Linked DNA regions of Homo sapiens: region 2 is linked to region 1. Evidence: fine-mapped expression QTL. A gene starts in region 1. The other region holds a variant in brackets. All regions are shown on one strand. Distances are from middle to middle.

The links.
Region 2: its variant is fine-mapped to the expression of CNIH2 in whole blood (TOPMed, PIP above 0.99).

Annotation. Positions count from the first base shown.
Region 1 is chr11:66,275,146-66,284,256 of GRCh38, forward strand. CNIH2 (cornichon family AMPA receptor auxiliary protein 2) reads left to right here and starts at 3,030. Exons shown (of 6, transcript NM_182553.3): 1 at 3,030-3,392; 2 at 7,114-7,182; 3 at 7,588-7,635; 4 at 7,890-8,002; 5 at 8,103-8,246; 6 at 8,425-9,061. The coding sequence starts at 3,312. The coding sequence ends at 8,452. RAB1B (RAB1B, member RAS oncogene family) reads left to right here. Exons shown (of 6, transcript NM_030981.3): 5 at 659-790; 6 at 899-2,347. The coding sequence ends at 1,093. LOC107984340 (a long non-coding RNA gene) reads right to left here and starts at 3,380. Exons shown (of 2, transcript XR_001748274.1): 1 at 3,350-3,380. RefSeq lists a silencer at 2,806-3,135 and an enhancer at 7,301-7,804.
Region 2 is chr11:65,717,592-65,733,044 of GRCh38, forward strand. It overlaps KAT5 (lysine acetyltransferase 5), which reads left to right. Exons shown (of 13, transcript NM_182710.3): 11 at 999-1,158; 12 at 1,282-1,363; 13 at 1,456-2,013. The coding sequence ends at 1,590. It overlaps RNASEH2C (ribonuclease H2 subunit C), which reads right to left and starts at 3,207. Exons shown (of 4, transcript NM_032193.4): 1 at 2,996-3,207; 2 at 2,651-2,826; 3 at 2,454-2,573; 4 at 82-2,218. The coding sequence starts at 3,167. The coding sequence ends at 2,192. It also overlaps the pseudogene KRT8P26. RefSeq lists a silencer at 2,893-3,132 and an enhancer at 3,283-3,352. The variant G/A (reference allele first, on the strand shown) is at 4,056.

The DNA of each region.
Region 1 (9,111 bases):
TGTGATATGACCAGGCTTCTGGCTCCTAAGGAGTATAAGTGGCCCTAGCTTGAGCACTTTCCTGAAAGTCCTGTCCTTTGTGTGTGGGGTAGGGGCGCAAGTGCTGGGAGAGTCTGAAGCCAAGTAATGAGGCTGTTGGTGCCAAAAGTAGGATGAATTTTAGGCTGTTCCCAGGATTCCTGTCTCCCCACAGGCCAGGGCCACCTCTGAGAGGACCCTCGAACTCCTGTGCTCCAAGGCTTCAAACCTTAAAGGGATTTTCAGGCCACGGTGGGAACTGTGGCTCTTGCGGACCCGTTACTCTCTGTTCCTATCTCCCGTCCGCTCTCTCTTTGCTTCTCACATGTGGTTAGGGCCTGCAAGTGTCTCAGGGAGAGAGACAGCTGCAGGGAGCAGAGCTGGCAGGCCCAAGTTGGGGCAGCTGTTGAGGTGTTGGGGCAGCTGGCAGGCTGCTGGGGCTGTTCTGGGTCTCGGATGGAAGAGGGCAGGGAGGAAGGTTCAGCCTGGAGCAGAGGGCTTCCTCTGCATCTCTGCATCGCTGAGCCCAGGACTTAAGGGGCCCGGAGCTGTACTGTTCCCCTCAGAGAAGGTCTTCTCCAGGCCTGGGGTAGGGGTGACAGTTGGGAGCAAAATAACTTTGGCCCCTGGCCCCCTTTAGGAATCCTACGCCAACGTGAAGCAGTGGCTGCAGGAGATTGACCGCTATGCCAGCGAGAACGTCAATAAGCTCCTGGTGGGCAACAAGAGCGACCTCACCACCAAGAAGGTGGTGGACAACACCACAGCCAAGGTAGCAGACGGGCCGGTCTGCCCGGGGTCGGGGCGCTGGGGCCTGCTGCCCCTCACCTGCTCTCCCCTCCTCTTCTCTCCCCTCCTCTTCTCTCCTCTCCCTTGTCAGGAGTTTGCAGACTCTCTGGGCATCCCCTTCTTGGAGACGAGCGCCAAGAATGCCACCAATGTCGAGCAGGCGTTCATGACCATGGCTGCTGAAATCAAAAAGCGGATGGGGCCTGGAGCAGCCTCTGGGGGCGAGCGGCCCAATCTCAAGATCGACAGCACCCCTGTAAAGCCGGCTGGCGGTGGCTGTTGCTAGGAGGGGCACATGGAGTGGGACAGGAGGGGGCACCTTCTCCAGATGATGTCCCTGGAGGGGGCAGGAGGTACCTCCCTCTCCCTCTCCTGGGGCATTTGAGTCTGTGGCTTTGGGGTGTCCTGGGCTCCCCATCTCCTTCTGGCCCATCTGCCTGCTGCCCTGAGCCCCGGTTCTGTCAGGGTCCCTAAGGGAGGACACTCAGGGCCTGTGGCCAGGCAGGGCGGAGGCCTGCTGTGCTGTTGCCTCTAGGTGACTTTCCAAGATGCCCCCCTACACACCTTTCTTTGGAACGAGGGCTCTTCTGTCGGTGTCCCTCCCACCCCCATGTATGCTGCACTGGGTTCTCTCCTTCTTCTTCCTGCTGTCCTGCCCAAGAACTGAGGGTCTCCCCGGCCTCTACTGCCCTGGCTGCAGTCAGTGCCCAGGGCGAGGAATGTGGCCAGGGGATCCAGGACCTGGGATCCAGGGCCCTGGGCTGGACCTCAGGACAGGCATGGAGGCCACAGGGGCCCAGCAGCCCACCCTTTCCTCTCCCCACTGCCTCCTCTCCCTTCCTACACTCCCAGCTCGAGCCGTCCAGCTGCGGTGGGATCTGAGTATATCTAGGGCGGGTGGGCGGGTAGCAGTGCTGGGCCTGTGTCTTGAGCCTGGAGGGAGTCTGCTCCTGCCGCCCTCTGCCCTGCCAGAGACAGACCCATGCGCTGCCTGCCCACCGTGCCCCTTTGTCCCCATGTCAGGCGGAGGCGGAAGGCCCACCGTGCCAGAGGCTGGGCACCAGCCTTAACCCTCACTCTGCTAGCACCTCCTCCCTTTCCCCAAGGTAGCACATCTGGCTCACTCCCCACTCCGTCTCTGGAGCCCACCAGGGAAGGCCCTCATCCCCTGCCGCTACTTCTCTGGGGAATGTGGGTTCCATCCAGGATTGGGGGCCTCTCTGCTCACCCACTCTGCACCCAGGATCCTAGTCCCCTGCCCTCTGGCACAGCTGCTTCCTGCAAGAAAGCAAGTCTTTGGTCTCCCTGAGAAGCCATGTCCCTCGTGCTGTCTCTTGCCTGTCCCACCTGTGCCCTGCCCTCCAGCTTGTATTTAAGTCCCTGGGCTGCCCCCTTGGGGTGCCCCCCGCTCCCAGGTTCCCCTCTGGTGTCATGTCAGGCATTTTGCAAGGAAAAGCCACTTGGGGAAAGATGGAAAAGGACAAAAAAAATTAATAAATTTCCATTGGCCCTCGGGTGAGCTGAGGGTTTTTGCAAGGAAGTTGTGGTGGCCAAGTGTGGTCTGTGGTCTAAGCCCAGCCTTGGGGTGGGGGGATGGAACTGGAACCCTGGGCTTGGTGGGGTGCACGGGGGTCCTGGCTTGGTTTCTGTGTCCTAAGGCTGCTGGCAAAAGCCCTTGACCCCGTTTCCTGAGGCCAGGAAAGCTGCTTGTGCTTCTGTGGTCTGTCCCCAAGGGCCCAGCACCGTTCTGTCAGGGAAAGAGGCAGGCGGCCATCAGCTCATACCTGGCGTGCCGCCGCCAACTCCCGCGGGGCACACGGCAGAGGTGTGGGGTCGCGCAGCCGCTGAGAGGGCCCCCACTGCACCTGGCCCAACCTCCTTCAGCGCCCCCCAAAACCCCACTGCTCCCATTCAGCCCCTGTCCTGGCGTCATTGTGTGTCCCAGCCAGGTGCTTCTGCCGTCTCCGACAGTGACAAGTGCCTCGCACTTCAGCCTTTGCCCTGAGCGCCCGCCCGAGGGGGCCGAGTGCGGCTGTGCCGGTGGCTGGAGTGCCGAGGGGTGCGGGGTGCCGGGGGCGGCCGCGTCTACGCTGTCCGGAGGGTGAACGGCCGCGGGCTTGTCGGGGCTGGGGGTGGCGCCCGAGCCGGGCGGGCAGACGAGGGGCCCGCGGAGACCCAGCCCCGCCCGAGGCCGCTCGCGCGGCGGCCCCGCCCCCGGCTCCGCCCCGCCGGCTTCGCGGGCTGGAGAGCGAGGGAGCCGCGGGCGAGGGATCGCAGGATGAGCGATCGGGGCCCGGGCAGCCGGCAGCGGACGCGCCCCCCGAGCCCACCGGCCCGCGCCCCGCGCCCCCCACGGCCCCGCGGTCCCGGTCCCGGCCGCATCACCCACGTCCCCCGAGCCCCACGGGCCATGCCCGGCCGGCCCTAAGCGCGGGCCGGGGGGCGTCCCCTTGCGCCCGGGCCCCGCGCTGGCGCCCCCCGGGCCGCCGCCCGGCGCGGGGGCCATGGCGTTCACCTTCGCCGCGTTCTGCTACATGCTCACCCTGGTGCTGTGCGCCTCCCTCATCTTCTTTGTCATCTGGCACGTAAGGCCGGGCTGGGGCTGGGGCTGGGGGCGGGGTGGGGGGCAGGGGCCACGCGGAGCTGGAGGGACCCAGGGCGGGTGGTCTCAGAGCCCAGGGGAAACTTGCTATCCCCCAGCCGTCGGCTTGTCGGCTTCGCCCCCATTAACACCCCCCGTGGTCGGCTTTCTTCCCGGGGCCCCCCTTCCTCCGCCGCCCCCGCCTGTCTGTGTGTATGTCAGTCGGTCTCTGACCCCCTCCTCTGCCCTCGTCCTCTGCTCCCATGCAGCCCGTGAGGTGGGGGGTGGAATTCTGGCATTTTTGTTGCTTTATCTTCTATGTCCCCCCCCACCACCATCCAGCCGCCTCCATTAGTCCGTCGGGCAGTTTGTCTGTCTGCTGCCCCCCCCCCCCCGCCTTTGTGGGTTTTTCCAGCCAGAGTGATGGAGCTGGTTGCTATGGCAACTGCATCTGTTTACAGGACCCACAGATCTCAGAGTCCATTAACCCTTTGCCTTCCCAGCCCCCTCCCTGACCAAGCAGCAGTTGGCTCTCATCAGCCCCCAGAGACCTAGCCCCCACCACCGGCTCACCTTGGGTTTCCCTACCCCTCCTGTTGGGGGCTTCCCAGCCCCCCAGGTTTCCTCTCCATTTTCCAGCTTCCCTCCTCTTCCTGTCCCCCTTCCCCTTTGTCTCTCACATACCCCTTGGTCTGTCCCTCGCCCTGGCCTAGCCTCACACCTGGTTCTTCAAAATGTCCATTCCTCATCCTGCATCCGACCCATCGCTTCCCCCAGGCTCCCTCCTCCTCCCCTCCCGCTCCTCTCCTCCAGGGCCTCCTCTGCCTGGCTCCCGTCCCCTCACTACAGAACTATCAATCAGCCTCCAGCTGGTTGTTGGGGGCCCCTGGCCCCACTTTACTGCCCTCCGTCCCCACCCCCACCCAAACCCCGTGCCTGTTTCTGTAACAGCCTGCCCAGCTCGGCCCTGGCTGGCTCAGCTCAGCATCCTCTGCTCACACCTCCCGCGCACACCTCCCTGATTGTCATTCCCTTTCAGGGGTCCTCTTATCCCTCCCTCAATCCCATTTCCCATAGCCCTTCCCTCCTTCCTCCCGGTGCCTCACCTGCTTCTTTCCCGGGCTCTCCACTTCCTCTCTCCTTTCTCTTCCTGGGACCTGCCGCCTGCTCCATGGTTCCCCCTGCGCTCCCTTTGCCATCCCCTGCCACCTTGCTCTTTGACATCGGGAATCCATAGACTGAACCCCTACTGTGTGAAGAGTGAGCCCCCAAAGGCACCTCAGCACACACCCCAGCTCCAGCCCTGTCACTCCTTGGCCTGGCTCTGCTCTCTCTCTGGGTCTTGGTTGCTTTGTCTTTCCCCCTCTCCCCCGCACCCCGAGTTACTCTATTTTTCTTTCTGTGGGGTAGGGGCAGGAGGGCTAGGGTTCTAAGGACTGGAGGGAGCTGGGGGCCACAGGCTAGGGAATGCAGAGCTGACCAGCTCCTGGGAGAAGGGCTCCTGGAATTCAAGAAGCCTCTTTTTGGGGCCTTCCCCACCCAGGGCCTTCCCACAGCCCCTGTGGGGTCCCTGTCCTCAGGGGATCCTCAGCAGTTTATCCACCACGCCTGCATTGATGCTTCCCAAAGATCAGGCTCTGGGTGGCTTTGAGGGGGTCAAGGATGAATAAAACCCAGACTTTGCCCTTGTGGAGTGCCCAGGCTGGGAGGAAAGGCCCAAGCTTTGAAGAAATGTCTTTGTTCATTCAACAGATATTGATTGAGCACCTGTGTGAGGTACTCTGTCCACTCAGCCATTTAGCTGGACAATCTTAGCAAGTCATTTGTCCCAAGTCTGGTTCCTCGCCGGCAAAGTGGACCTGTGCACATCAGAGTGCCTAGTGCGGCCTGCTGGGTGGTAGGGGATAGGAGGCGTGGTCCTCAGTCCACAGCTGCTAAGAACTAGACTCTTAACAGGGCGGGACCCCAGATCCCACTCCAGACCCTCAGCCCAGGCCCCAGTGGTTCCTAGGCAACCCTGGCGGTGAGTGACGCGTGTCAGCTGTCACCATGGGGGATTGTTTGTTCCGGGGGGCTGAGTCAGCGCCAGGCAGCCTGGGGGGTGGGAGGGGTGACGCCCGCCGCCTGCTGGTGGTGCCAGCTCTGGGGTACAGACGGCACCCTTCTGCTCCCTGTGGACCCTGTTGCTGTGCGTGCCAAGTGGCGCTGCCCAGAGTCAATGGGGAGCTGGGCGGGGAGGGGGGATGATCCAGATGGCCTCAGCTCCCTCCAGGAAGCCCATGTTCTTTCTCTCTGAGCCGTCTGGGGCCTGGGATGCCTGGGGGTGGTGGGCCTGCTGCCTCATCCTAGGGCTGGAGCCGACAGGAGGGGACCCCAGCAGGCTCCTCTGCCAGCCCATTTCCCCCAAGTCACCTGTCAGCTCCTTCCCATCCCATCATCCCCTCAAACACTTGCTCCCCTGGAGAGTTTCCACCCGTGAGGACACTGCCGTCTGCCAGACACCCCAACACCTGAAGCCACCTTAGATTTCTGCCTTCACTTCTCAGCCATTTGAACCCTCTGGAGTCTGGCTCCTAAAGAGCTGTAGAATCCCATGCACGCCTTCCGTCTCCACTACAACTCTCCTCACTCAGACCACCATCAGCCCTGCCCCTAACCCTCCAAACCGTCCCCTTGCTGGTCTGGCCTGAGTATGACACAGTGGTTAGGAATTTTAACTCTGGAGTCACACTGGGTTAGAATCCACTAACCAGCCGTGTGGCCCTGGACAAGTCACTTAACCTGCCTCAGCTTCCTCATCTGCAAAACAGACATGAAAATAAAACTAGTACCTAAGTCATAAGGTTGTTAAGAATTAAATGAGTGAATCCACATACCGGCCAGGAGAAGCACCACTTAGATCTCAGCTGTGACTGTCAGTGAGCTCGGATTTCCTGCCCCACCAATCCTGAGACATGGACCAATCCTAAGACATGGACCTGACCACCCCACTCTGCTGCTGTGTACTCTTCAATGCCTCCCCCCAAAATTTTTGTGTTAAAGTAAGTCCAAACTCCTGCTCTGGCCTCACAGGGCGCCCATGTCTGGCTCTGCTGAATTCTCCAGCTCCTCTTCCACCACTCTCTCTTTTCTTCCTGCTCGCTGCGCTGTCACGCCAGCCCCATGAAACCCGCAGCCTCCTGAATGTCTCCTGACCTTTCACCCCTCTGCCATTGCACCTTCTACTGCTTGGACTGCATTTCCCCCATTTGCTCACCAACACCTACTCCGAGTCCAGCCTGAACTCCCTCACCCCCCACACAGGGTTAAGCGCCCACTCCAGGTCCTCCCTGTACCCCAAACCCTGATCACCTGGAAGGCAGAGTGATCATCCCTCTGGGCCTGGGTTCCTCCTGGGCAGGGGCTGCATCCCAGGCCTCTGGAGCCCCAGTGCTCAGCACAGGGCCTGAGACTTGGCAGGGCAGACACGAAGCCATGTCTTGGGATGTTTTGGAAGGGGGTGTAGTGGACATGGGCCTGAACTGGGCATCCAGACGCTAGGGTTCCCTTCTGGACTGTTGTAATGACCTTGGACCAGGCCCTGCTCCTCCCTGGACCTCGGTTTCTCCACCTTTGCAACAAGCTCCACCTGGCTGGTCCTCTTCAGTAAACTATCCCACAGAAGGACTTGGGGGAAGGCCATAAGCTGCTGCCCCAACCCTGACGGGCACACGCCCCTCCCCCAGATCATAGCCTTTGATGAGCTGCGGACCGACTTCAAGAACCCCATCGACCAGGGGAACCCTGCGCGGGCAGTAAGTGATACATGTGCTGTGCCGAGGTGTGTCCGTCCGTCTGTCTTTCCATCTGTCGTGGGCTGGGGGTGGGAGACGGGAAGACGGGGGTGGGGTGGGGGGCCTACGGCCATGCCCCCTTCCTCTCTGTCTCCGCCCCCAGCAAACACCTGGCGCGGGCTCAGGGCTGAGTTCCTCTTGGCGGGGCGGTGGTTGCCAGGCTCTGGGCCGTTGCCATGGAGACGCGGGTGAAGGCCCTTCCATGGTGACGGTCGCCATGGGGACGGCGCGGCTGCTTCCCGGCCGTGCCGACAGTGCCGCAGAGATCGCTCTGGCGCCCCCTGGCGGCCACATGTGGAGCGGTGGGAGCTGCTCCAGTACCTGCTTCTCCGCCACCCCATCGCGGCCTTTTCCTTCCCCCAACAGCGCGAGCGTTTAAAAAACATCGAACGCATCTGCTGCCTCCTGAGGAAGGTCAGTGTCAGGGCTGGGGGCAGGAGGCTCCTAGCCCAGCGCTGCCCCCACTGTCTGTGGCCCAGAACCAGGCCTTCCCCTGCTTTGGGCCTGTTTGATCCACTCTACTTGGGAGGGAGTGGGAAGCCAGAGGCCTTTTAATCCCCAGAGGTCACGGTGGGTGGGCACCTCCCAAACCCCAGCTCCTCTCTGTCCCCTTGAAGGCTGGTCTGTCATAGCACCAGGCCGCTGACCTCTCACCCTCACTCCCCCAGCTGGTGGTCCCAGAATACTCCATCCACGGCCTCTTCTGTCTGATGTTTCTGTGTGCAGCAGAGTGGGTGACCCTGGGCCTCAACATCCCCCTCCTCTTCTACCACCTCTGGAGGTGAGGGTAGCAGCTGCCTTGGGGAGGCTGAGATGGGGAACAGGGGCAGGATGGGGGTGGGAGTCCTGATGGCAGACACTCAGGCCCCTGTCTGCCCCAGGTACTTCCACCGTCCTGCAGATGGCTCTGAGGTCATGTATGATGCGGTCTCCATCATGAATGCTGACATTCTCAACTACTGCCAGAAGGAGTCCTGGTGCAAACTTGCCTTCTACCTGCTCTCCTTCTTCTATTACCTGTACAGGTGAGGCCTTGCCCACAGCAGTCAGAACTCAGGGAAGGGATGTCCCAGCATCACGCTTCCAATCCCAAGTTCCTGCCTTTTGCCCCTGAGGACTGAGGGCAGCCCAGGGTGTGACCAGGTGGGCATCTGGGTGGCTGTGTGTGTGCAGGGCTAGGCTCACTGGCTCATCTTCCTACAGTATGGTTTATACGTTGGTGAGTTTCTAAGGGGGAAGCCGGCCAGGGAGCGAGCCCAGAACGGACCGGACGCCTGTGCACCCCCAGCCCTGCCCCTTGGCCGCAGAGGCCTCAGCCCTGGGGAGGGAGGGGGCACTGGTGCCCCCAGCCTCTCCAACCCCCAAACTGCTGCTGCGGGGAACCCCCCCCACCCCGCCTTCAGAGCCCTCCCCCTTGGACTAGAGCGGCTGGGCAGAGCTCTAAACAGGGGCAGGGGCTCCTCTGCCAGCCTGTGGGCATGGCAGTCATTCCTGGAAGGGGCAGGACCTCCGGCCTTGTCCATTTCGGGGGAAACTTGGGCCCTGCCAAGGGGCAGAGCTTGACCCTGGAAATTCTGGGCCATCCCCCTCCACCCCCACCCTGAGGCTCCCCCTGCAGGTGGGGGGGTACCCGCACCGGGAATGAGCAGGCTCAGCAGGGGGGCAGCCCCACCCCTAGTCTGCCCTCCCCTCTCCCCCAGGCTCTTTCTCCAGCCCTGTCTCCATCTGCCCCAACCTCAGCCCACCTTGTCTCTTGGACCTATTTTCTATGTCGCCTGGAGGAGTCCGGCACCCCCTCCCCGGCCATTTGTGACAAAATATGAATAAACTACTGCAAATATGTGGGCCCCGGTTCTGCTCCTGGAAAGCTTGAAGAGGAGATGGGGGCCG
Region 2 (15,453 bases), 550 kb before region 1:
AACCAAGCTCTGACCTGAGAAACAAGGAGGAAGTTCTAGCTGTTGACCTGGTGAAGACACAGAGGCTTTACCTGATCAAGGTTATGGTCCATTCGAGAAATTTTATTGGTTAAATGATGCCCAGATGGGGTCACATCCTCAGAACTTCTCAGCCTGGTAGCACAAGTGGATGCTTGAAGAAACTCAGTCTTGGAACTCAGACAGCAATGGAGACGGGATGTGAGTGGGACCAGCAAGGGGCTAAGGTCCATTATGAGGGTGAGGAAGGGCTTCTAGAAGTAACAAACATCCCAGGTCCCTGACTGGGGAGAATGAAGACACTGACCAAGAGATGTGAAGCCACTCAGGGCTGTGCAGGGTCTGAGGATCTCACTGGGGACGGCCTCCCAGCGGCCAGCTATCAGCACGAGTTGGAGGGAAAGAGCCATGGTGGGGGTCAGTCACGTGGCTCCCAGGAATGGTCTCCCCGACTTAGGAAGCACCTTGGTGCACCTTTTCTCCTTGCATCCTCACAACCACCCAGTCAGGCCACTCAAGTCTTACAGCAGGTGACACTCCCAAGGTCCCAGCTAGGAGGACTTTGAGAATTCAAGCATTCTCAGGTCTGGATTAGAGACAGGAATCTGTCTCCACTTCCTTACATGGCTAGACACAGAGCCCGGGATGGCAAAGGAAAATTGGAGGCCCCTTCTTCCCATGAGCCATTTTCTCTGCATCCCCTGCCCATAAGCCTTCACTGGCCTCTGATCACCCTCATGGTTGACTGCAGCTGCTCCTCTCAGTGCCCTCATGCCCTCCACTGTGCTCAGCGCACGGAAAGAGTGAATACTCAGTTCTTCCTGAGGGAACTGAGGCACAGAGAAGTGGAGGGCATAGAACTGCCAAGTGGCAGGGCCATGATAGGAACTAGGCAGCCTGCCTTGGCAACCTGTGTTTTTAAATGTTGCTTATGTTCATCTGTGACCTCTTACTCACCCTCTCCTGCTCCATTGCTTTAGGCTATGAACTCTCCAAAGTGGAAGGGAAAACAGGGACCCCTGAGAAGCCCCTCTCAGACCTTGGCCTCCTATCCTATCGAAGCTACTGGTCCCAGACCATCCTGGAGATCCTGATGGGGCTGAAGTCGGAGAGCGGGGAGAGGCCACAGATCACCATCAAGTGAGCCTGGCGCTGTCTACCTGGGGGTACATGGCATGGCTTGTCTGTTCCTGGGCTTTCTCTCTCAGGGCTCCTGGGGACAGATAAAGGTCCTCAGGGAACCTGACCTGTGCTCTCCCACAGTGAGATTAGTGAAATCACCAGCATCAAGAAGGAGGATGTCATCTCCACTCTGCAGTACCTCAATCTCATCAACTACTACAAGGTAGGGAGGCAGGCAGGGGAGACAGGTGTGTGGGATGCAGAGTGCAGTCCTCTGTGGGCTGACCACCTGCTGAACCCATCTCCTCTGCCCAGGGCCAGTACATCCTCACACTGTCAGAGGACATCGTGGATGGCCATGAGCGGGCCATGCTCAAGCGGCTCCTGCGGATCGACTCCAAGTGTCTGCACTTCACTCCCAAGGACTGGAGCAAGAGGGGGAAGTGGTGACCAGACACTGCCCACTGCAGTGCCAAGACGGCAGCAGGACTGGGGCTGATAGCCCACCCCGCCCCCACTGCAGCTCCCACAAAGCACTCTAAGGGAGATGGGGCTGAGGACAGCTCAAAAAGGAGAGGACAGGCCTGGCAGGGGCCCACTGGTGCCCAGCACCAAGGCGAGCTCCGGGCTCAGACCAACTCCAAGGTCAGCTGGCCACAGGCCCAGGCCTCCTCTGAAGCAGGGACCAGAGGGAGCCAGGCAGCTGTGTACAGTGAGAAGGGATCCGGATGGGGGAGCTCTGTACAGAGGGCTGGTGATTGTAAAAATTTCTTTTGTAAAGTAGAAGTTGGGGGTGGGGTGGGTGCTGGCTGCAAAAATTTCTGGCTTCTCTTACCCCTATTGCCCCCGGCAATAAATTGTTTCTATATGCCAGAGCCATGCAAAGTTCTTGGTGGGGAGGGGGAAAGGGCCCATGCTGGCTTAGGGGCTCTAAGGCGCCCAGACTCACAGGTGCTGTGAAGAGCTCCTTTATTGGGGTGATGGAATCGGTTCCAAAGAGCTGGTTTACTGCTGTGAAGGGATCGCAGCTTTGAATTTCAAGCTCTGGTTCTCAGTCCTCGGGCACCTGTGCGTGAATCTGCAACAGGAGTCGCCTCTACTGTTGGACTTGTAAGACAGGGCGGCAAGCTGGCCCCCATACCCGAGGAAGGACCCAGCTGTTCAGAATAACCGCTTCTAGACATGCTAGGAAGAGTGGTCAGGGAGCTACGCTTCCCACACACTACCCAGTAGAATCCTCCAGGCTCCGTCTGCGCAATTGTGCTCCCCAGCCCATCCACCCGGGGGCAAGACGGAACTCCTCGTCTACTCACCGCTGCCGCAAGGCTGGGCCAAGTTAAGGCCCCACGCACTTTGGCATCCGGGCCAGGGATGGTCTCCAGACCCCACAGGGTGAAGCGGCTGAAGTTGGCAGTGGCTCCAATGAAGCGGTCCTGGGGAAGGGGCCTGGCTCAGCATCGGGACTACAGCTCCCGCCCGCACCCCCTTTCAACCCTATCCCTTTGCTCACGAAGTCCCGCTCCAGCGGCTCCTCCTCTTGGTCGTCAGTCCCGGAATCCCGCAAGGGGTCTGGCTTCCCCATCGACACCTTCTTCTCTTCTGTCACCATCACGTATCCCACGAGGCCAGGCGGCACCGCCACCTCCTCTCCCCGTAGACAGCGGCCCCGAAACGACACTTCGAGTCCTGGAGCGGGAGGCGCAAAGGGCCTCAGGCAGGACCCACGCTGGGTCGAGCCCGGAGCTGCCCTCCCGCCACCTCCGGACGGACCACGATCCCCAGGAGCCCAGGCGATGAGAAGCGCGCAGGCCGGCGCGGGGGCTGCCGGGAGCCGTAGTCCGGCCGCAGGGCTCACCCTCGGGGCCCTGGCGGATGGCGGGCGTGAAGAAGCGCCCCACCGGGGCGGGCCCGTCCACCGCAACCTCGCAGGGCAGCAGATGCAGTGTGGCGGGTACGGCGTCGCGCAATGTGGCGGAGCGCAAGTGGACGCGGTGCCTCTCGATGGCCGCTTCGTCGCCGCTCTCCATCCTCCCTCCTACGCGACGCCAGGGCTCGCGAGCTGACACTGAAGCTGGCGCGGAAAGCGCGCAGGACCTCTCAGGAAGCCTCCGCGGGGCCTCACGGGAAGCCGCCGCGGAGCTTCACGGGAAGTGTAGTCCCCTTACCCCCTAACGCTTTCCCTGGGTTCAAGTCCTAGGGTTTTCCAGTTGTGTTTTGTTTTTTTCCTTCCTTCCTTCCCCCCTCCCCTCTTTCCTCCCTCCCCTCTCCCCCTCTCCTTCCCCCTCCCCCCTCCTTCCCCCTCCCCCCTCCCCCTCCTCCCTGCCTCCCTTCCTTCCCCCCTTCCCTTCCCTTCCTTCCCGTCCTTCCCTCTTTCTTTCTTTTTCTTATTTATTATTATTTTTTTTTGACAGAGTCTCGTTTTGTCGCCCAGGCTGGAGTGCCAGGCACGGTCTCAGCTCACTGCAACCTCCGCCTCCCGGGTTCAAGCGATTCTCCTGCCTCAGCCTCCGGAGTAGCTGGGATTACAGGCGCACACCACCATGCCCACCTAATTTTTGTATTTTTAGTAGAGACTGGGTTTCGCCATGTTGGCCAGGCTGGTCTCGAACTCCTGACCTCAGGCGATCCTCCAGCCTCGGCCTTCTGAAGTACTTGGATTACAGGCGTGAGACACCGCCCCCAGCCGGGTTTTTTTCTTTTATTGTTTTTAATGGCACATGTCGTTGTAAAAATCTAAAACGATTCTGAAAAGTACTCTTTTTATATTGATTAGTAGGTAGGTTATTCATTTTTAGTTTATTAGGGACATCAACCCTTTTCTTAAATGCATTGAAAATGTTTTATCTGTGGTCTGTCTTGCAAACCTGTGTAAAGGTGATTTTTGCTGGACAAGGACTTATTTTTGTGGTTGTTTG[G/A]TCTTTTAGACAAGGTCTCACTCGCCTAGGCTGGAGTGCAGTGGTTTGATTGGCTCACTGCAGCCTCGACCTCCCAGGCTTAATCCATCCCCCATCCTCAGCTTCCTGTGTAGCTGGAACCACAGGCCTGCGCCACCACGCAGCTAATTTTTGTATTTTTGGTAGAGGTGGAGTTTTGCCATGTTGCCCAGGCTGGTCTTGAACTCCTGGACTCAAGTGATCTGCCCACCTTGGCCTCCCAAATCACGCTGGAATTACAGGCGTGAGCCACTGCACCCAGGACAAAGACTAATTTTTTGTAGTCAAATTTATCAACACTTTTCAGTCTTTTAGATTTCACAATTTTCTCTCTTTGGTTTCTCAGCTCTTCTCTAATGTTTATTTGTTCAGACACCCAACTTAGATATATTTTTTCAAGTTCTCACATAAAACAAACACAAAACTGGAAATTTAGATTTAAATTGCGTTTAATTTATACATCCCTGCACATCTGGGAGCTGGCCTTGGTATTCTGTTGAATATAAACAATTTCAGAGAACATCAGCATCGGACAAGGTCACTCTGTGACCGTGAGGGAGCAAGACAGAAACAGAACCACTCCATCGTCACATCTGAATGCTGGCAAAGGTGAACACTGTCCAAACCACAAAAGGCATGAAACATCCCTCTTTCTCCCATAAGAGAGTGACTGTTGTTTCCTTACCAATTACAGCATTAGCCTCCAACTAATCTTCTCTCCTTCTGGGCAAGACTCATTAAGATAGTCCGTCATAGACATACCCCCACCTCTGACAGCATCCAAGCCAGAGAGAAGCCTGGCTTCCCTAAACCCTGACTGAAATCACTGAACATGGGCACAAATCCTCCTATAAGTCCTTTCTAGCACCCTCTTATTGAAATTCCCCAGAGTGCAGGAGTAATATACCCAATTTGTTCAACTGCAGATGTATTCCTGGTGCTCTTTCACTAGAGTGGCAGATTAATTTAGAAAAAGGCTTGCTTTAGTTTTCTATCAGGAAAGACATAATTCAATTTATTCACATCTCCTTGGATATCTGTACAGTTGTGAGGTTTTGTTCATATATAATAGCTATTAATACATATTGTAAAGTTTATTTCTTCTTAGCTTATATTAATAATTGTTTCTATTAAGAACTGAGGGGCTGGGCATGATGATTCACACCTGTAATTCCAGTGCTTTAGGAGGCCAAGATGGGGGAGGATTGCTTGAAGCCAGGAGTTTGAGACCGGCCTGGGAAACATAGCAAGACTCCGTTCCTACAAAGAAAAAAATTTTTTTAAACATGAGTGGGGCACAGTGGCATGTGCCTGTAGTCCCAGCTACTCAAGAAGCTAAGGTGGGAAGATCACTTAAGCCAAGGAGTTTGAGGCTGCCGTTCGAGTCACGATTGCACCACTGCACACCAGCCTGGGTTACGGAGGGAGACCCTTTCTCTAAAAACCAAAATTGGGGCTTTTATTTTTTTCATTTTATTTTCTAACTGATTTTCTTTTTAATCTATAGCAGGGGTTGGCAAACTTTTTCTGTAAGGGGTCAAATAGTAAATATTTTAGGTTTTGTGGACTTTATGGCTTCTGTCGCAGCTACTCAACTTCACCGTTATAGCATGAAAGCAGTCATAGACAATACATAAATGAATGAGCGTTGTTGTGTTCCAGTAAATCTTTGCAGAAACAGACAAGGGGTTGGATTTGAACCACAGGCCATAGTTTTCAGACCCCTTGTCTATAGCAAACCTGTTGATTTTTATATGTCCATTTTTAAACTAGATATCGACTGAATTATTTTGTTCCTAATGATTTTTATTTTATTTTAAGATCCCCAGAATTAGTCACCTCTCTTTCAAATAATAATTTTTACCTCACCATTACATCTTCTTTTTGTTTTTTGTTTTTTGTTTTTTTTTTTTCATTACACCTTGTAATTTGTTTTCTTTTCTAATTGCCTTGGCCAGTACTTGCAGAACAGTCTCTCAAATGTTACTGGTATCAGAGGACAACATTGTCTTTTTCCTGAAACTTTCACGGGAGTGCTTCTGCTGTTTCACCAATAATCATGAAACTGCCTTTTGACTTGTTATATATGTCTCATTAAAGCTGTACTACTAAGAGCTTTTAAAAATTGGGAGTAGATGTTGGATCTTATTTTTTATTTTTATGTTTTTGGTTTTGCAAGTTTCCTGTAGTCTGGATATTAGTAATTGCATTCCTATAGTGTCAAGGTAATCTATACCTGTATTTTCTGTAATTACATCTAGAAGCTTAATTCGATTCTTTGGGGAGGGGAGAGGGCAAGACTACTTCATGGGTGGTTTTGTGTTTTTCCCTCTTTTTGTGAGGTTAGCAGCCATAGATGATCATTGCCTAGATCCTTTAATTCATTAGAGGTTAAAACGCGTGTGTACGCGCACACACACACACACACACACATATTTTTGGGACAGAGTCTCACCTGGTAGCCCAGGCTGGAGCGCGGTGGCGCGATCTTGGCTCACTCAGCTCAACCTCTGTCTCCCGGGTTCAAGCAATTCTCCTGCCTTGGCCTCCTGAGTAGCTGGGATTACAGGCGCATGCCACCATGCCAGGCTAATTTTTGTATTTTTAGTAGAGATGGGGTTTTACCATGTTGGCCAGGCTGGTCTCCAAATCCTTACCTCAAGTGATCTGCTCCCCTCCCTTGGGCTCCCAAAGTGCTGGGATCACAGGCGTGAGGCATGGTGCCCAGCCTAAAACTGATATTCTAAGTCCTCTCATTTCTTCTTCATTTACTAGCTGAAATAGGTCTATAAAGAAAAACTCTCCCCATCAGCCATTTGATTGCCTGTTGGTACAGTGAGGATAAGAAAGACAAAATAATTAGGCCGGGCACAGTGGCTCACACCTGTAATCCCAGCACTTTGGGAAGCTGAGGTGGGTGGATCACTTGAGGTCAGGAGTTCGGGACCAGCCTGGCCAACACGGTGAAACCTTATCTCTACTAAAAAATACAAAAATTAGCCGGGCGTGGTGGCGCATGCCTGTAATCCCAGCTACTCAGGAGGCTGAGGCAGGAGAACTGCTTGAACCCGGGAGGTGGAGGTTGCAGTGAACTGAGATCGAGCCACTGCACTCCAGCCTGGGTGACAGAGCGAGACTGCATCTCAAAAAAATCCTTTTATTTTCCAGTTCTTAAAATAATGATTTGTTGCCCTAGCATATTCCAATGGTGACCTTTTAAAAATGTTAAATAAATATTAAATAAATAAATATAAATAAAAATAATAAATAATGGATTAACACTTTTATGTTTCACATAATTGTGGTTATTATTCTTACTGAGGTGCAAATTTCCCCATCTTCTGCCAGTGGAAGCCTCTTCAAGTTATCTCCTGAATCTTTCGATATGACCCTAGTGATCTTTTATACATATCTTTGTTTTCCAGTACCACAAGATGTTCCTGGCTCATCTTGTACATTTCCTGCCCCAGACTTGGAATTATACATCTCTCCAAAGATCGCTGGTTCCCTTCAGTGGGAAATGATATTTAGTAATCCAATCTGATACTAGATGTATTCATTGCTACTGAGTTAGCCTTTGTTTCTAGATATTTCCAGTGGACAAAGCTAGGAAATACGCATTTTTTTCCTCTCCTTTTTTTTTTTTTTTTTTTTGAGACAGAGTCCGCTCTGTCAGCCAGGCTGGAGTGCAGTGGCACAATCTCGGCTCACTGCAACCTCCGTCTCCTGGGCTCAAGCAATTCTCCTGATTCTCCTGCCTCAGCCTCCCGAGTAGCTGGGATTACAGGCGCCCACCACCATGCCCGGCTGATTTTTTTATATTTATTTATTTATTTTTGAGACGCAGTCTCACTCTGTCAGCCAGGTTGGAGTGCAATGGTGAGATCTCGGCTCACTGCAACCTCTGCCTCCCAGGTTCAAGCAATTCTCCTGCCTCAGCCTCCCGAGTAGCTGGGACTACAGGCGCCCGCCACCACGCCCGGCTAATTCTTTGTGTGTTTAGTAGAGACGGGGTTTCACCGTGTTCGCCAGGATGGTCTCGATCTCCTGACCTCGTGATCCGCCCGCCTTGGCCTCCCAAAGTGCTGGGATTACAGGCGTGAGCCACCGCGCCCGGCCAGGAGGCTTAGTCTTAATAAAAACTTGGAAAGAAAGATTCCCCTGAGGATCAATTACAACCGAAATGACAGAGCCCCTATCAGGTGTTGTTGAGTATCCCCTCTGCTGCTAAACTTCAGGGAATAACTTGTTGGGTACACCTGTCTAGGATTAAACCTGTTTCTTATGAGTCACAGGCACAAAAGCAGGATACCACGACCTACATCTGTGAACCTTTGGAGGACCTCTGCTACCTATTTAAAAGAATCAATATTCAGCCATAAGTGGTAACGTGACGCCGTGGGTGGGAACATTTTTCTCTTCTTCCTGATTGTAATACTTCTTTTCTGTCGCTTTGGGCAACTACCTCCTCCCAGGAAACATCTCTTGTCCTTGTTGGGTGTAGAGGCCACTCTAAGGCCCAGGTGGATACCATGTGCCACTGTTAATCCTGTTGCTCTCCCAATTAACCTAATCCTGTGTAAGTGGGAACAAAACTTTATAGTAAATATTTCAAAAATTATAGCTTTAGGAAATCATCTTCATGGTTGCTGGATTTGTCATCAACATCCCCAGGATAGAGAATTTCACCTTCTGGCCGATCCAAAAACTCTCTTGGCTAACTCCCTAGCCCTCTTCACCATCCATAGCAATCTCAAAGTACCCAGACCCCGACCATTAGGTGGAAATTTCTGTCGTGCACTTGATGGATTCTACCTGAAATCCCCCACCACTATTGCCTGGACCTGGGAAGGCGTATGTCTAGATCTCCAGGGCACTCATGATTCTATCAAGGCATGTATCTAGATCTCTAGGGCACTCATGATTCTGTCAAGGCGTGTATCTAGATCTCCAGGGCACTAATGATTCTATCTTTTGCAACCACTGTTGTGTTAATGACACAAAAGTGGAAGTTTCCCCACAATGCTGTGACCCAACTGTAGTTGCCAAGTTCCCAAGGCCACAGCAAGATAAATAAGATTCCACTTGTGAGCAAGGAGACCATATACAGTGCCTTCTCCCAGAGCAGAACATACAGAGAAAAAAACAACTGCCTAATCTGGGAAGGTGAGATTACCGCCCCCTTCTGGAAAACAAGGGCTGACCTAGAGGAAGCTTCTCCATCCTTGAATCTACATCTGGTTCGGCCTGCCTACCTCCACTCCTGCCTCCATCGTGTCCATCACGGTGACCCAGAAGCCCTACAAGGCATCCATCTCTGGCCCCTGGGCCTTCAGCAGCCGCTCCTACACCAGTGGTCCCGGTGCCCACATCAGCTCCTTGAGCTTCTCCCAAGTGGGCAGCAGCAGCAGCTTCTGGAGTGGCCTAGGCACCAGCATGAGTCTGGGTGGTGGCTATGGTGGGGCAGTGGTATGGGGTGGGGGTGGGCGACACAGCCATCATGGTGAACCAGAGTCTGCTGAGCCCCCTTAAGCTGGACCTGGACCCCAATATCCAGGCTGTGCATACCCAGGAGAAGGAGCAGATCAAGACCCTCAACAAGTTTGCCTCCTTCATCGACAAGGTGCAGTTCCTGGAGCAGCAGAACAAATGCTGGAGACTAAGTGGAGCATCCTGCAGCAGCAGAAGACAGCTGGGAGCAACATGGACAGCGTGTTTGAGAGCCACATCCACAGCCTTGGGCAGCAGCTGGACACTGGGCCAGGAGAAGCTGAAGGTGGAGGCAGATCTTGGCAACACGCAGGGGCTGCTGGAAGACTTCAACGATAAGTACCAGGATGAGATCAACGAGCGGACAGAGATGGGGAATGAATTTGCCTTCATCGAGAAGGATGTGGATGGAGCTTACATGAACAAGGCAGTGCTGGAGTCTCACCTGGAAGGGCTGACTGACAAGATCAACTTCCCCAGAGAGCTGTGTGAAGAGGAGATCTGGAAGCTGCAGTCCCAGATCTCGGACACGTCTGTGTGCTGTCCATGGACAACAGCCACTCCCTGGACGTGGATGGCATCATCGCGGAGGTCAACGCCCAGTACGAGGAGATCGCCCACTGCGGCCAGGCAAGGCTAAGAGTCTGCACCAGGTCAAGGATGAGGAGTTGCAGACACTGGCTGGGAAGCACGGGGATGACCTGCGTCGCGGGAAGATGGAGAACTCTGAGATGATCCGCAACATCAGCGGGGTCCATGCTGAGATTGAGGGCCTCAGAGGCCATCGCGGATGCTGAGCAGCGTGGGGAGCTGGTGGAGCTGGAGGCTGCCCTGTAGCAGGCCAAGCAGGACCTGGCGCCGGCCAAGCAGGACCTGGCGCCGCAGCTGCTTAAGTAGACAGCTGAGCTCGGCCTCCCGGGGCCTCACAAGCCCTGGCCTCAGCTACGGCCTGGGCCCCAGCCTTGACTCTGGCAGGGATTTCAGCTCCTTCAGCCGCACCAGCTCCTCCAGGACCATGGTTGGGAAGCTGGTGTCCGAGTCCTCTGATGTCCTGCCCAAGCGAACAACTATGGCAGTCCCTCCCAGCCTACCCCCTCTTGCAGCTGCCCCAGAGCTTGTGGGGGAGGCTGCTGTGCAGGAAAGCGCAGGGAACAGGAGACCCACTTGAGGCTCAGCCCTCCTCCACAGCCCACTTGTGTGGGGTAACTCCCTTGCCCATGCCTCCATCACAAAACAATTCCACTGTTTTGTTTTGTTTTGTTTTGTTTTTTCAAGATAAAGCCTCAGCTAGCTCTGTCAACTGTCAAAAAGCAAAAAACAAACAAAACCCAGAAAACCCTACCAGGGTTGTTTGGTCCTCCCCGTTGGAATGGGGGGAGATATCTTGTATCTCCACAGACCCAACTTAGTGGCTAAAGATAGGCATCACACCTCACAGGGCCTCTATTGCACCCCAAATGGGTTCGTTTTCATTTGTGGTCATAAGTGGGAAGAAGTCACATCCCATAACCACTCCTAACTCCCCAGAGGACCTCCTGTTCTTTTAGGAGTAGCTTTCCTTTGTATATCAAAAACTTGGAACAGGGGTGAGTGTATGTTGGCCACCCTTTGGCCTTCCGGGGGTCACCATATAAAACCCTGTAAGACCGAGGAATACCAGAAATGAATGATCAATAGGATTAATTCTGACATGAACTGGAGTGGCATTAGAACTAGTGGCCCCCTGGGGTGGCTTTGCCTACCATGAGTTGGCCCTAAAGAACTGACTCAAACCCTGGAATCATTAGCCACCAACACAGGTCAGGCATTAAAAGGAATTCAGGGATTCCTAGACTCTTTGGCAAATGTAGTTCTTGATAAGAGACTAGCATTGGATTATTTACTAGCTGAACAAGGTGGAGGCTGTGCAGTTATGAATAAAACCTGGACAGGTTGAGATTAACATTCACACGATCTATCAGCAATCTATCTGGTCACATAGATGCTGGGTCACTGACTCCAGCTATATCTGCTCGATTATCAAAAATGCCCTCCCGGCCGGGCACAGTGGCTCATGTCTGTAATCCCAGCACTTGGGAGGCCGAGGCAAGTGAATTGCCTGAAGTCAGGAGTTCGAGACCAGCCTGGCCAACATGGTGAATCCCTGTGTCTACTAAAAATACAAAAATTAGACGTACGTGGTGGCGGGCGCCTGTAATCCCAGCTACTTGGGAGGCTGAGGCAGGAGAATTGCTTGAACCCGGGAGGCAGAGGTTGCAATGAGCTGAGATCGCGCCATTGAACTCCAGCCTGGGCAACAAGAGCAAGACTTCATCTCAAAAAAAAAAAAAAAAAACCCCTCCCAAGTCTCACTTGGTTCTTACCTCTCCTAGGACCTTTGATAGCTGTCTTGTTATTACTAATCTTTGGCCCTTGCTTTTTTAACCTCTTTTTTTTTTGAGATGGAGTTTTGCTCTTTGTTGCCCAGGCTAGAGTGCAATGGCACGATCTCAGCTCACTGCAACCTCCCCCTCCTGGGTTCAAACGATTCTCCTGCCTCAGCCTCCTGAGTAGCTGGGATTACAGGTGTGAGCCACCACACCTGGCTAATTTTTGAATTATTAGTAGAGATGGGGTTTCACCATGTTGTTTCACCATGGGCTGGTCTCGAACTCCTGACCTCAGGTGATCTGCCCACCTCGGCCTCCCAAAGTGCTGGAATTATAGGCATGAGCCACCACTCCCGGCCTGCTTGTTTAACCTCTTAATAAAGTTTGTGTCTTCTAGGTTACAACAGTTCCAGGTAAAGACAATGCTGGCACAAGGTTTCTAACCCATCCATCTTCTGACCTAGAGAATGAAAGCATCCTGCCTTTGGGCCGCCTTGGGTCAGGTATCTGGAGATTTTTACTCCTCTAGTGCTATGCAGGGCCTATTCCCATGAACTCAGCAGGGAGCAGTTACAGAACATGGACCTCCACCCTTTTGCAACCCCTTTCAGATTAAGGAGGAGTATCTGATCTCTGAGGGGAGAATGAGGTAGGAGGCAGGTGGGACTCGACTGTGGGCCAGGTTGAAGACTGGTTGAAACTGGGAAGAGTCTGTGTGTGGTGGCTCATGCCTGTAATGCCAGCACTTTGGGAGGCCGAGCCGGGTACATCACTTGAGGCCAGGAGTTCAAGACCAGCCTGGCCAATATGGTGAAACACCGTCTCTACTAAAAATATAAAAAATTATACAAAAATTAGCCAGGTGTGGTGGCGGGCGCCTGTAGTCCCAGATACTCAGGAGGCTGAGACAGGAGAATCACTTGAACCTGGGAGACGGAGGTTGCAGTGAGCTGAGATTTCATCACTGCACTCCAGCCTGGCTCCATTTCAAAAGAAAAGAAACTGGGAAGAGACACTGAAGGCACCTTTCCATAAGACATGCCCACTAACGCCATGACTGTTTACCATTGCCATGGCAACACCTGAAAGTTACTGCCCATTTTTGAGCTATTTTAAAATAACCGACCCCTTAATTAGCATACCATTAAGAGTGGGTATAAATATAACTGCAAAAGTGCCCCTAGGCTGCTACTCTCAGCACACTGCCTATGAGGTAGCCCTGCATGGCAGGAGCAGTCACGGAGCTGTGACGTTGCCACTGCTTCAATAAAGCTGTTTTCTTCTACCCCCGGCTTGCTCTTGAATTCCTTCCTGAGTGAAGCCAAGAATTTGCCCTGCCTCACCTTGAGATACCATAAACATTTTAGGATGGTTATTTAAGAAATGTCAGTGAAAAACATCATCATGACTTTGATAGGGATTGCATTGAATATGTAGATTGCTTTGGGTAGTATTCACATCTTAGCAATATTAACTCTTCCAATCCACAAACATGGGAAGTGTTTCCATTAATTTATGTCTTCTTTAATTTCTTTCAGCAATGTTTTGTAGTTTCTATTGTATAAGTCGTTTACCTGTTGGTTAATTCCTAAATATTTTATTTTATTTAATTATTTGATTTATTTTATTTTATTTTATTTTATTTTTTGAGATGGAGTTTCCCTCTTGTCGCCCAGGCTGGAGTGCAGTGGCACGATCTCGGCTCACTGCAACCTCCGCCTCCTGGGTTCAAGCGATTCTCCTGCCTCATTCTCCCGAGTAGCTGGGATCACAGGCGCCTGCCACCATGCCTGGCTAATTTTTGTATTTTTAGTAGAGACAGGGTTTTGCCATGTTGGCCAGGCTGGTCTTGAACTCCTGACCTCAGGTGATCCACCCGCCTCAGCCTCCCAAAGTGCTGGGATTACAGGCATAAGCTACCGCACCCGGCCAATATTTAATTCTTTTGAATGCATTGTAAATGGAATTGTTTTTAAATTTCCTTTTCAGATTGTTAGCACATAGAAATGCGACTTTTTATGTGTTTACGTTGTATGTGCTACTTTGTTGAAATCATTTATTAATTCTAACAGTTTTTTTTTTTTGATGTGTGGAACCTTTAGAATTTTCTACATAAAAGATCATATCAGGCCTGAGCCTGGTGGCTTATAACAGTAATCATAGCAAATTGGGAGGCTGGGGTGGGAGAATCACATGAGGCCAGGAGTTTAAGAATGCAGTGAGCCATGATTGTGCCACTGCACTCTAGCCTGGGTAATAGAGTAAGACCCCAACTAAAAAAAAAAGGATCAATGTAATCAGTGAACAGAGATGATTTTACTTCTTCCTTTCCAGTGTGGATGCCTTTTATTTCTTTTTCTTGCCTAATTGCTCTGGCTAGAATGTTCAGTGCTATGTTGAATGGAAATAGTGAAAGCAAGCATCCTTGCTTTGTTCCTGATATTAGAGGAAATGTTTTCAATGTTTCACCATTGAGTATGGTGTTCACTGTGGGTGTTTTATATATGGCTTTTTATTATGGTGAGGGTGTATACTTCTATTTCTAGTTTGTTGAGTGTTTATTTTTATCATGAAAAGGTGTTGAATTTTGTCAAATGCTTTTGCTGTTAGAAGGGGAAGGGTCTGTATACCGAAAACTATAAAACACTGATGAAAGAAATGGAAGGAGGCTGGGCACGGTGGCTCATGCCTGTAATCCCAACACTTTGCGAGGGCCAGGTGGGCGGATCACGAGGTCAGAAGTTCGAGACCAGCCTTTCTAATATGCTGAAACCCTGTCTCTACTAAAAATACAAAAAGTAGCCGGGCATGGTGGCGCATGCGTGTGGTCCTGGCTACTCAGGAGGCTGAGGCAGAAGAATCACTTGAACTCAGGAGGTGGAGGTTGCAGTGAGCTGAGATCGTGCCGCTGCACTCCAGCCTGGGTAACAGAGTGAAACTCCATCTCAAAAAAAAAAAAAAAAAGAAATGGAAGGAAACACATATAAATGCAAAGATATCCCATGTTCATGGATTGGAATAATTAGTATTGTTAAAATGTCCATAGTAACCAAACTACCCAAATCCACAGAATCAATGCAATCCTTATCAAAATTCCAAAGTCTTTTTTTATAAAAAAGAAAAAACAATCCTCAAGTCCACATGGAACCACAAAAGACCCCAAACAGTCAAAGCAATCCTGAGCAAAATAACAAATCTGGAGGCATCATACTCCCTGATTTCAAAATATATTATAAAGTTACTGTAATCAAAATAGCATGGTACTGCCATTAAAAAAAAGATATATCAACACATGGAACAGGATATAATGCCCCCAAAATAAACCCATACATTTATGGCAAATTGATTTTTGACAAAGATGCCAAGAATATACAATTTGAAAAGGATACTCTCTTTAATAAATGGTATTGAGAATGCAGAAGATGAAACTAGACTCTTATCTTACACTATATACAAAAATCAACTCAAAATGGATTAAAGACTTAAATATAAAACAAACTGTAAAACTACTAGAAAAAACA